2 separate regions of the Homo sapiens genome follow, and region 1 is reported to be linked to region 2. The links are microRNA targets in miRTarBase. Many come from high-throughput screens and were not tested one by one. Region 2 holds a microRNA gene; the other region holds the end of a gene's coding sequence.

Region 1 (4,404 bases), not on the chromosome of region 2:
GAAACGGCGTCACTCAGGACCGCAGTGTCCTCTGCAATGAAGGCTCAGTGCCCACCTGCTGCACCAAGACTTTCGTTGCACTTGAAGGCTTTTTCCGAAAGTGTGGACCCTGCACCACCTGAATTCAAATCAGTTGGGGTTGCAGGGGAGGAAGGAGCTTCTCAAAAAGGCAGCCCTGGGCCATGGCCCTGAACCTGAGAAAATCCTTGTGTAAGCCTGAGAACGTTTTATGGGTGTTCTCTGGGTTCTAGCTATGGTGGCAGCTAACTCACTCCGCTGGTCAGCACAGCCTTTACAGACTGTTTTAGCTGGGCCCAAAATAGCCTGGGGGAAAAAAAAGAATGTGTATTCTCAAATCCATCCCAAAGACAAGAAAATGGCTGGATGAGAAATTCAGTTTCCTGTTCCTAGAGATAAGCACTATGATTGCACCGTTTAACAGGCAGTCCTCACCTCCTTCCTGTAGGTGGAGGGCTACCTCCTTGCAGGGATGGCAAATCCCCACACCAAGCCTCTCTTCTACCCTCTTCTCCCTCAAAGAGAATCAACCCCACAGTTTATTCCACTAAATACAGGCCCATCACCACGACTCAGCGAACAACCTGGGCAGGTGCCAACCCAGGCTCTCCTTCAGGGACCTGGCCCATCTCTCACCGCCGTGGTGCCCCTACCCTGCAGCTTCTGACTCGTCACCCCAGTATTCTGTCCAAGGGTTACTGGGGAGATGGTCTGTCCCCTGGAACTGCCAGATCTGTAACTGTCCCACATCCTAGGTCCCCCTCTCCTGTGGGAGGTCTTGGTTTACAATACTTGACAAGTTTAAGGGTCTGAGTCCCATGTACAAATGGAAAGTGAAATCAGGTGTCAACACCAAATTCCAGGCTCCCCTGACATCAATGACTTCAACAGCCGGACCATTATTCCCCATCACCAGGGTCCTTATCACCCTCCAGGAAATCAAGTGTCCCCTAAAAAGGCTGAGCTCTAGATAGCCCCAGATATCAACTGTCTTAAGACACTTGGTATTATCCAACTTCCTCACTTTCCCCGTGTTTCTGACCACCTCTGTGCTACACACCATTCATGAGCAAAGTTAGGACCCACGTATTTCAACACCTGGCTGCTCCTGAAAATGTATGAGGACAACAGTCCTCAAAACCCAAACACTTCACCACTGGAAGTGCCATGGGAAAAGGGGGATCAGAGGCTTTTTGGAGGGAAAACATGAAGCCTTTAGAAGTGACTAGTTCGTAGCACTTAGTGACATCAACAAACCTCATTTCCTCAGCTGTACCAGCACACTCGAGGGAAGGGCGTGAAGGTGTTGTGTAACTGGCATTGGCTGAGACGAGACCAACCTCCTGTTTCCGGACTCTTATGAACTTAAATCACGGCTTGAAACTCTCCACGACCCCAGTCAGCCCCTGTGCCTCAACTATTTTCGATCAGGCAAGTGAGGTGTGAGTCAAAACAAAGGAAACTGGTCTACAGTGTGCTTTGGGCGCAGCTGGTGTCATGGTTGTGATGGAATTCAAGTTGACACTACCTATTCCCCATCAGAAAACGGCATTTGCTGGCAAAGTTGATCCCCAGACTCTGGATCTGGAGAAATTCTACACAGAGTTCAGTGACAGCCAACCCCTGAATCTCACTGCGGCAAAACAGCACAACTAAGGGAAGAAAAGTGGAAATAAAGGACATCTTTTCTTCTAAGCCTAATAAAGACCAACGTAACTGTTGGTACAGCAACTAATTCGTGAGGACAAAGCTTTTCTTCACATGCCAGTCCTTAAAAAAAACAAAGCCTCGTACAGTAAGAGTAGCCAGGTGTTAGCCACTTTAATAGAAAATATGATCAAAACTCGATTACAAGAGTTCAAAAAGACATAGAAAACCAGTGAGTTTCAATTTTATTACAAGTTTTCAAATCTGGGACTAGTTTCTTTTTTTCTTTTAACTGAAATGCCAACTTCAGCCCAGGGTTTTTTCACAACCAAACTAAAAATGACTTACTACATGGGAACATCAATGCAACAAGTAGAATTTGTAAACTCAAGCCACAAACTTAGTTAATAATCATGGTTAAGGGACATTGCCAAAGAGCAACTGATGCCTCAGTGAAGTTTGAAAGAAACTCTGCTTTCTGTGACGGCAGAGAAGAAATATGCAAGCAATTCTGCTTCAAAGAAATTTGCATAGAAATGGAAAAATGCCAGAGCCTTTAACACAAGTGAAATTGCAAAGCCTCAACACGTTCAACTCAATCCACAGAGCACCAAATGTTTAATGGGAGCCAAGGTAGGACTGAGCATTGAACTTCCAGCTATGCAACTCGCAGGGCACAATTTCAAGTGTGGAAACCATCTGTAGGCAAGCTCTTTTAAAAACATGAATTTTAGACACCGTAAATTCTAATGCAGACACTTTTGCATTACTGTTTGAATTTCAGAAGGGCACCACAAGGCACCAGAGTCTTTCAAAGTCACTCACAGCAACAATTGCATTTTTTTCCCAGCCTTGGTAGCCCCTTTCAGTTGTCTAGCCTCTGCACTGTGGCACACCACTGACATTAAATCCAGTCATGGCCTAAGTGGCATGAGGCAGCTATTTCCAGGGCACCTCCCACCTCCTTGGCATGGGAGGCTTCCCAGTCACTCCTCCTTCGTGTCCCCTCTTTCAAGAACCTCCAGAGCTCTTGGCATCAGGGGCCCCCATTGCTGGGCCCCACACGGGAGACCACATCTGGAAGCACTATTCCTACAGCTCCCTCTGCTGGAGACGAAAGTGACAGTTTGTTGCAAAGACCTGTAGAAACATTACTTACACGTTCATTTCTGTACACATTTAGTTAATTTAGAACCTGGGACTTTTACAATCGATTCCCCAAACCCCTTTATGGCAGCAACACTGAAGGAGCACAGTTTCTCTCTCTAGGAAGAAGAGGATTAGCAGACATAATTGTGTGCGTCAAGAGAAATTTGTAATCAAAAAATGAAAGTAAGACGAATGGCCCAGAAACCCGCATTTTATTGACAGTCATTTTCCCACAGAGAATCTTAGAAAGATGTCGCGTTTTCTTTTAATGAATGAGAGAAGCCCATTTGTATCCCTGAATCATTGAGAAAAGCAACAGATACAACTGACAGTCACACTTTTTAAAATCAAACAGTCACTACCTTCAGCCCACACCTCCACACCCGCATCTGCCTCCCCAATGGCTGTCAGTTCGGTAAAGTCACCCTCTCCTTCTACTCTGGTATTACCACGAGAATTGAAATTTTTAAGCAGAAAAAAAAAGAAGTCAAGTTACAAATAAATGAGTGGCGAACCAAGGGAAGCCCTTTGACTATGATTTCCAATTTTCTGTTCAATCCACACTGCAGAGATACAAGGATAAACCACCATTTTGGTTCCCAAGTTTTATTCAAGAACTCATACAAAATTTTCCAGATAAATGAAATTTAATCCTCGTCTTCCTCCTCTTCTTCGTCCTGGTTAATCTGGAAGTAACGTAATTCGTAACTCTCTTTGCTGTTAGCAACTACGCGCAACCAGTCACGTAGATTATTCTTCTTCAAATATTTTTTGGTGAGATATTTCAAATACCTGCAGAGAAAGGACACAAGAACTCCACTAGACAGTTGGTGCTTGCATTCTAAAACATTTTAACATTTATAAAACCCAGCACTCAAAATCATTACAATTCAAGGTGTTTTCCCAAGCCTCAAAAATGGCAAAGGTAAGGCAAATACACCCAGCCAAGGCTCTGAGTTATCAGCCACGTACCATCGACATCGGCAGTAACAATTAGAATAGCCTCAGCATGGTGGCTCAGGCCTGTAATCCCAGCGCTTTGGGAGGCCAAGGCAGGCAGATCACTTGAGGTCAGGAGTTCGAGACCAGCCTGAACAACATGGTGAAACCCCATCTCTACTAAAAATAAAAAAATTAGCTGGGCGTGGTGGTGCACGCCTGTAATCCCAGCTACTCGGGAGGCTGAGGCATGAGGATCCCTTGAATCCAGGAGGCGGAGGGTGTAGTGAGCTAAGATTGTACCACTGTATTCCAGCCTGGGTGACAGAGCAAGACTGCCTCCAAAAAAAGAAAAAAGAAAAAAAACTAGGCCAGGGGCACTGGCTCACACCTGTAATCCCAGCATTTTGGAGGGCTGAGGCAGGCGGATCATGAGGTCAGGAAACGGAGACCATCCTGGCTAACACGATGCAACCCTATCTCTACTAAAAATACAAAAAATTAGCCAGACGTCGTGCTGGGCGCCTGTAGTCCCAGCTAGTCAGGAGGCTGAGGTAAGAGAATCGCTTGAACCCGGGAGGCAGAGGCTGCAGTGAGCCGAGATGGCGCCATTGCACTCCAGCCTGGGCGACAGAGCAAGACTCCATCTCA
Region 2 (4,404 bases):
GATAACCATTTTTTTGGTTGATAACAAATAATGAATACAGATTGTTATAACCTAGAAGGCAGAAATATTATCTAAACTTTAAGCTTCAAAATTAGAACACAGAGGAGTGTATTGATCAAAAATTTATTATCACAAAAAAGTTTATAATGATCATAAGTGTATTATGATTATTAACAATGATTTTTAGAACGTGGCGTTTTATGGACTACATGCTTGGAAACACCTTAATAGGTTTTGCTTATCATTTATCTCTACTCTATAAGCCATTTCAGGAAAGTTATTCTTTTGAATACAGGGTCTGTGTTAGTTCATCATTTGGTTTCCAACACTGTAATGAAATAAAGTGCCTGGGATATTCTGAATCACCTTCCTGACAAAGCTTTAGAGGAATTGCTGATGAACCTTATAAAAGACTAAAAATATTTGCATGTATAAAGAAGATTGAGAAATGTATAAAAATATATCTATTACAAATTAAATATATTTTTAGAACAATCCCTAAAATTCCATCACTGAGCATTGATAAAAAGAATATTTTAATTTTTCATAAGTTAGCTATAATTTTCTAAAACCTCAAACAGAGCAAAAGTTTTAGTAATATATGATAGCTCCTAGAAGTTCAGAAGGGTAATTATTAAAACATGTTTTAAACTTAAAATAGCTATAAGACTTCATATTTTAAGCAGTGTTATAAATTATAATCTGATATGCATTTGTTTTGCTCTAAACTAAATGATCATCCTATGAGTGATGGAGGCTTTAACCAGAATAATCTGGTTATAATATTTATGAAATTGCCTTATAGGATGTTTAATTCCCACAGTGGCTTATTATAATTTCAGTTCTACAGTGTGAAGTGATACTGTCCTTTAAGAATTGGGGCTCTACTGTGACTGAGGCACCTTATTTTAACTTGGTCTCCTGTTAGGAGAAGTATTTGATTCTTTATTTATTTCTTTTATAGTCTCAGGTTATTTCTCAGATTAATGGGCCTAATTAAACCAAAAAAAAAACCATAAGAAATAGCAGCCCTATTTTGCTGATGCTCCCACTTTTTCATACCTTTAGGAATAACCATTCTTATTCTGTTATCCTACTTGATCACACTTAATTATGTTAGTAAAAATTTTTTGTAAAAATCCAAAAGGTATTTATCATGACATTGAAAAGTTGTTAAAGGTTTTCTTCTTGGATAGTTTACCTTAGACAAGAGATAAACTGAGTGCAACATGAATTAAATTAAGTGAAATAAATTTTATTGGAAACCACCATTTATGGCAGAGAGACTTTCCTTGAACTGATGAGTGATAGACACAATTGGATGCTAGGAAAAATATAATGGGTTATTTTTTATTACAGTCAAAATGTATCAAATATCTGCTACTCACTCATGATTCTGTAATGCTCTATCAGAGTGATGAAAGAAATCACAGATGCAGCCCATAGGTTCAAACAGTTTACTTTGTGGTGACAATGTGAATATAAAACATCAGTGAAGAATATAAGGTAGAACATAATTAACCACTAAATTACCTGATACAGACAATATAAATATTGGTTGAGAAGATTTAAATCAATTCAATGAAACTGTAGACAAGATGAGATTTGAGGCAAGCTTTGGAAGATAGAAAGGATTAGAATAGACAAATGGAAAGAAAAGGACATTGTAGGTGAGGCTGATGAAAGATCAAAAGCCATAGGTCTGGTAAGAGCATGCTGATTTAAGATACAATGTCGTAAAGAGATCAGCTTAACATGTGGGAAAGTGTGGTGAAATTAAGGAGGACTTTCAAAACCATGCAAAGTATTGACTTAAAGAGCAAACAACGATAAAATCCTAATTATTTCTAAATCTTTGAATGGCCTGATGGTAATAGTGACAGTGTTGATAAGGTTGCTAATAATACTTTGTACTGTGACTTATGCTACTAACATATGTGAAAACATAGGACTGTGCTTGGCACATAGCACAAAGTCTTATGGTACTGTGTGCCAAGCATAGTCCTGTGTTTTTACATATGTCATCCCACATGAATCCTCACAAAACCTTGTAATATTTCATACCAATTTTACAACTGATGAAACAGAAATTGTTTTAGGTCATATAAACTGTAAGAGTCATAATGAGGAATTCAACTCAGATATGTCCTAGCAAATACACGTAAATATTGGTAAACTTTTTACTGAAAATACAGACAACATTAAGTAGGAGGTAATTTATCAGAGGGCACAAGAAAAATTCGACTAAATTTCTAAAAGAATTTTTATTCGAGTAAAATAAGATATTTTAAAAACACACGTGAAGAAACTGTAGCTTATAATTGGTCTGTATTTCATTGTGATAAATCAATGTCTCTCAAAATGGAATCTATTCACTGTTCACATATTCATAAACTTGGCTTGCTCATTAAACAACAACAACAATAATAACAATAATAGCACAACATAGATTATTGAGCTTATTCAAAACAAAATGAATAATAATATTTTGGTAGTGAGAATGGTGGGTTTAACAGCCTTAAGAAGAATTGGTATGTACATTGACAATACCCACACTAGGATGCAGAAGAAATCATTCTTCCTGGTATATATATAAAAATATAATTGATAGAATTTAGATGTACCCCATGCTATTTCCTGGACTGTCTTCCCAGAAAGATCTATGATTCTCAGGTTGGTGTAAATCTTTCCTATCATGCTTTTGCATTTTAAAAATAAATTATAATTTAATATATATGAAATTGCTTTGTAAATTTAAACTACTGTATATATAATTTTATGATTTAATTTTTAGACTTAGCATTATGTTTTTGAGGTTTTAAATGAAGATAAATGTAGATCTGATTAATTTTCATTGCTTTTTAATATTCAATTTATAATAAAAACAAGGCTTATTCATTCTTCTACTGAGATAGGTTGGTACAGTTTTGGAATTCTTTTGGTCCATTTATTAGAGTTTCTCACATATATGCTTTCTGGTGAAATTGCTGAATTCAGGGATACACACATACAACTTTATTAGGCAATAAAAAATTATGTATAAGAATTTCTGTTTATCCTCAGTTATAATAAAAGTAATTATGCAAATGGAAAAGTTTGCCACTATGGATATGAAATGGTATATCAGTGTTATTTATTAGCTGTTCAGATGAGAAAACTGTGAAAATAATTCCCTGTGTTTATTGGCCATTTCAGTTTCTGATTCCTTAAATTGCTTGTTTTCTACAGGATTGTTTATTCTTAATTTGCTTATTGCTTTGGTAGAGTTTATTATATATTTTGATTTTTTAAAAACCTATTGAAAATATAATCTGTGATTTGTCTTTTCCTTTCATAAGGTTGCCAGCACTAATTATGTTAAATAAATTCATGATGTAAGATACAGTAGAAAGGAAAATCATCATATATTCAGTAAATTTTTAAGGGCCAGACAGTATACTAGTTATTTTGGGATGTCTTGTTTCAATGTAACTTTATATTCAACCTCCAGGCTATGCATTACTACCTCAACTTTGCTGATTGCACTGAGGTTCAGAGATGCTAAGTAACTTGTCAAGGGATTTGGATCTATGAAGAAGATGAGGAAAATTCCAAGCTAGTTTTATTTGGCTCTATAACCCATGTTTTTTTTTTAACAAGGTGAATAATAGTTACACTTTCAACTCTTCAACACTCATTCACATAGATTTGTTAACTTGAGTCCCATTAAATTGCAGCGATAACAAGGATATGTATTATTAACACTGTTTGATCATTAATTTGGAAGATGGGGTGAGAAATAATTCGTCCAAAGTTACTAGCAAAAGTATAATTCAGTTTAGCCTTTGGATCCAGTGCTTCTTCCATTGACCTTCCTTAGGTTGACATAAATTGGCATCAGTGATACATGTGCTCATGACTAGTAAAGACAACATTTTAAAAAATTAACCTTTTAATGCATAAAATTAACCTCATAATGCATAATATATGCTGTGTGAGTATAGATTACATCAGTCTTAATACTAATATACTTGTATCTACTTTACTAATGTGTTTCCTTCATTGACCTTAGTCATATATTGACCTTAGTTTTATATATTTTAAGATATTTACTTCATTTAGTATCAAAAAGAGTCTGGAAATTTAGCAAATATTTATTTTAAAATTAAAAGTACTTTTTTGAACAAGAGAGTTTTATATTAAAGGAAAAAGACTTATAAATCCAGAGTTTGGATAATAAAAAATAAAAAGAATCAAATAAAGCAAGGAAAAAATTATATGTGGCCAGAGAAAAGAGTTGGAAATTCCTCATATAAACCATTCACATAGTGCAGATAAAATCCATGGCTCAAATAACTTATGTGCTTTTTCTTTTATAAAGTCGGTTGATGGAGGATTGATAATTTAGTCATGCATTTTTAAATG

What was found. The annotated mature microRNA hsa-miR-3169 reads UAGGACUGUGCUUGGCACAUAG and lies in region 2 at 1,947-1,968, shown strand. An mRNA with a match to its seed (bases 2 to 7 or 8) in the 3' UTR can be bound and repressed. Matches are read on the target gene's strand: a 7mer-m8 pairs with bases 2 to 8, a 7mer-A1 pairs with bases 2 to 7 and ends in A, and an 8mer does both.
Region 1: the mRNA of RPL22 is a reported target of hsa-miR-3169. Seed matches in the 3' UTR shown: 8mer at 2,300-2,307.

Annotation. Positions count from the first base shown.
Region 1 is chr1:6,183,211-6,187,614 of GRCh38, forward strand. It overlaps RPL22 (ribosomal protein L22), which reads right to left. Exons shown (of 4, transcript NM_000983.4): 4 at 1,810-3,606. The coding sequence ends at 3,462. Among named protein-coding and RNA genes, the nearest start is that of CHD5, 5.1 kb to the left of the region's middle.
Region 2 is chr13:61,197,412-61,201,815 of GRCh38, reverse strand. MIR3169 (microRNA 3169) reads left to right here and starts at 1,936; the gene lies at 1,936-2,018.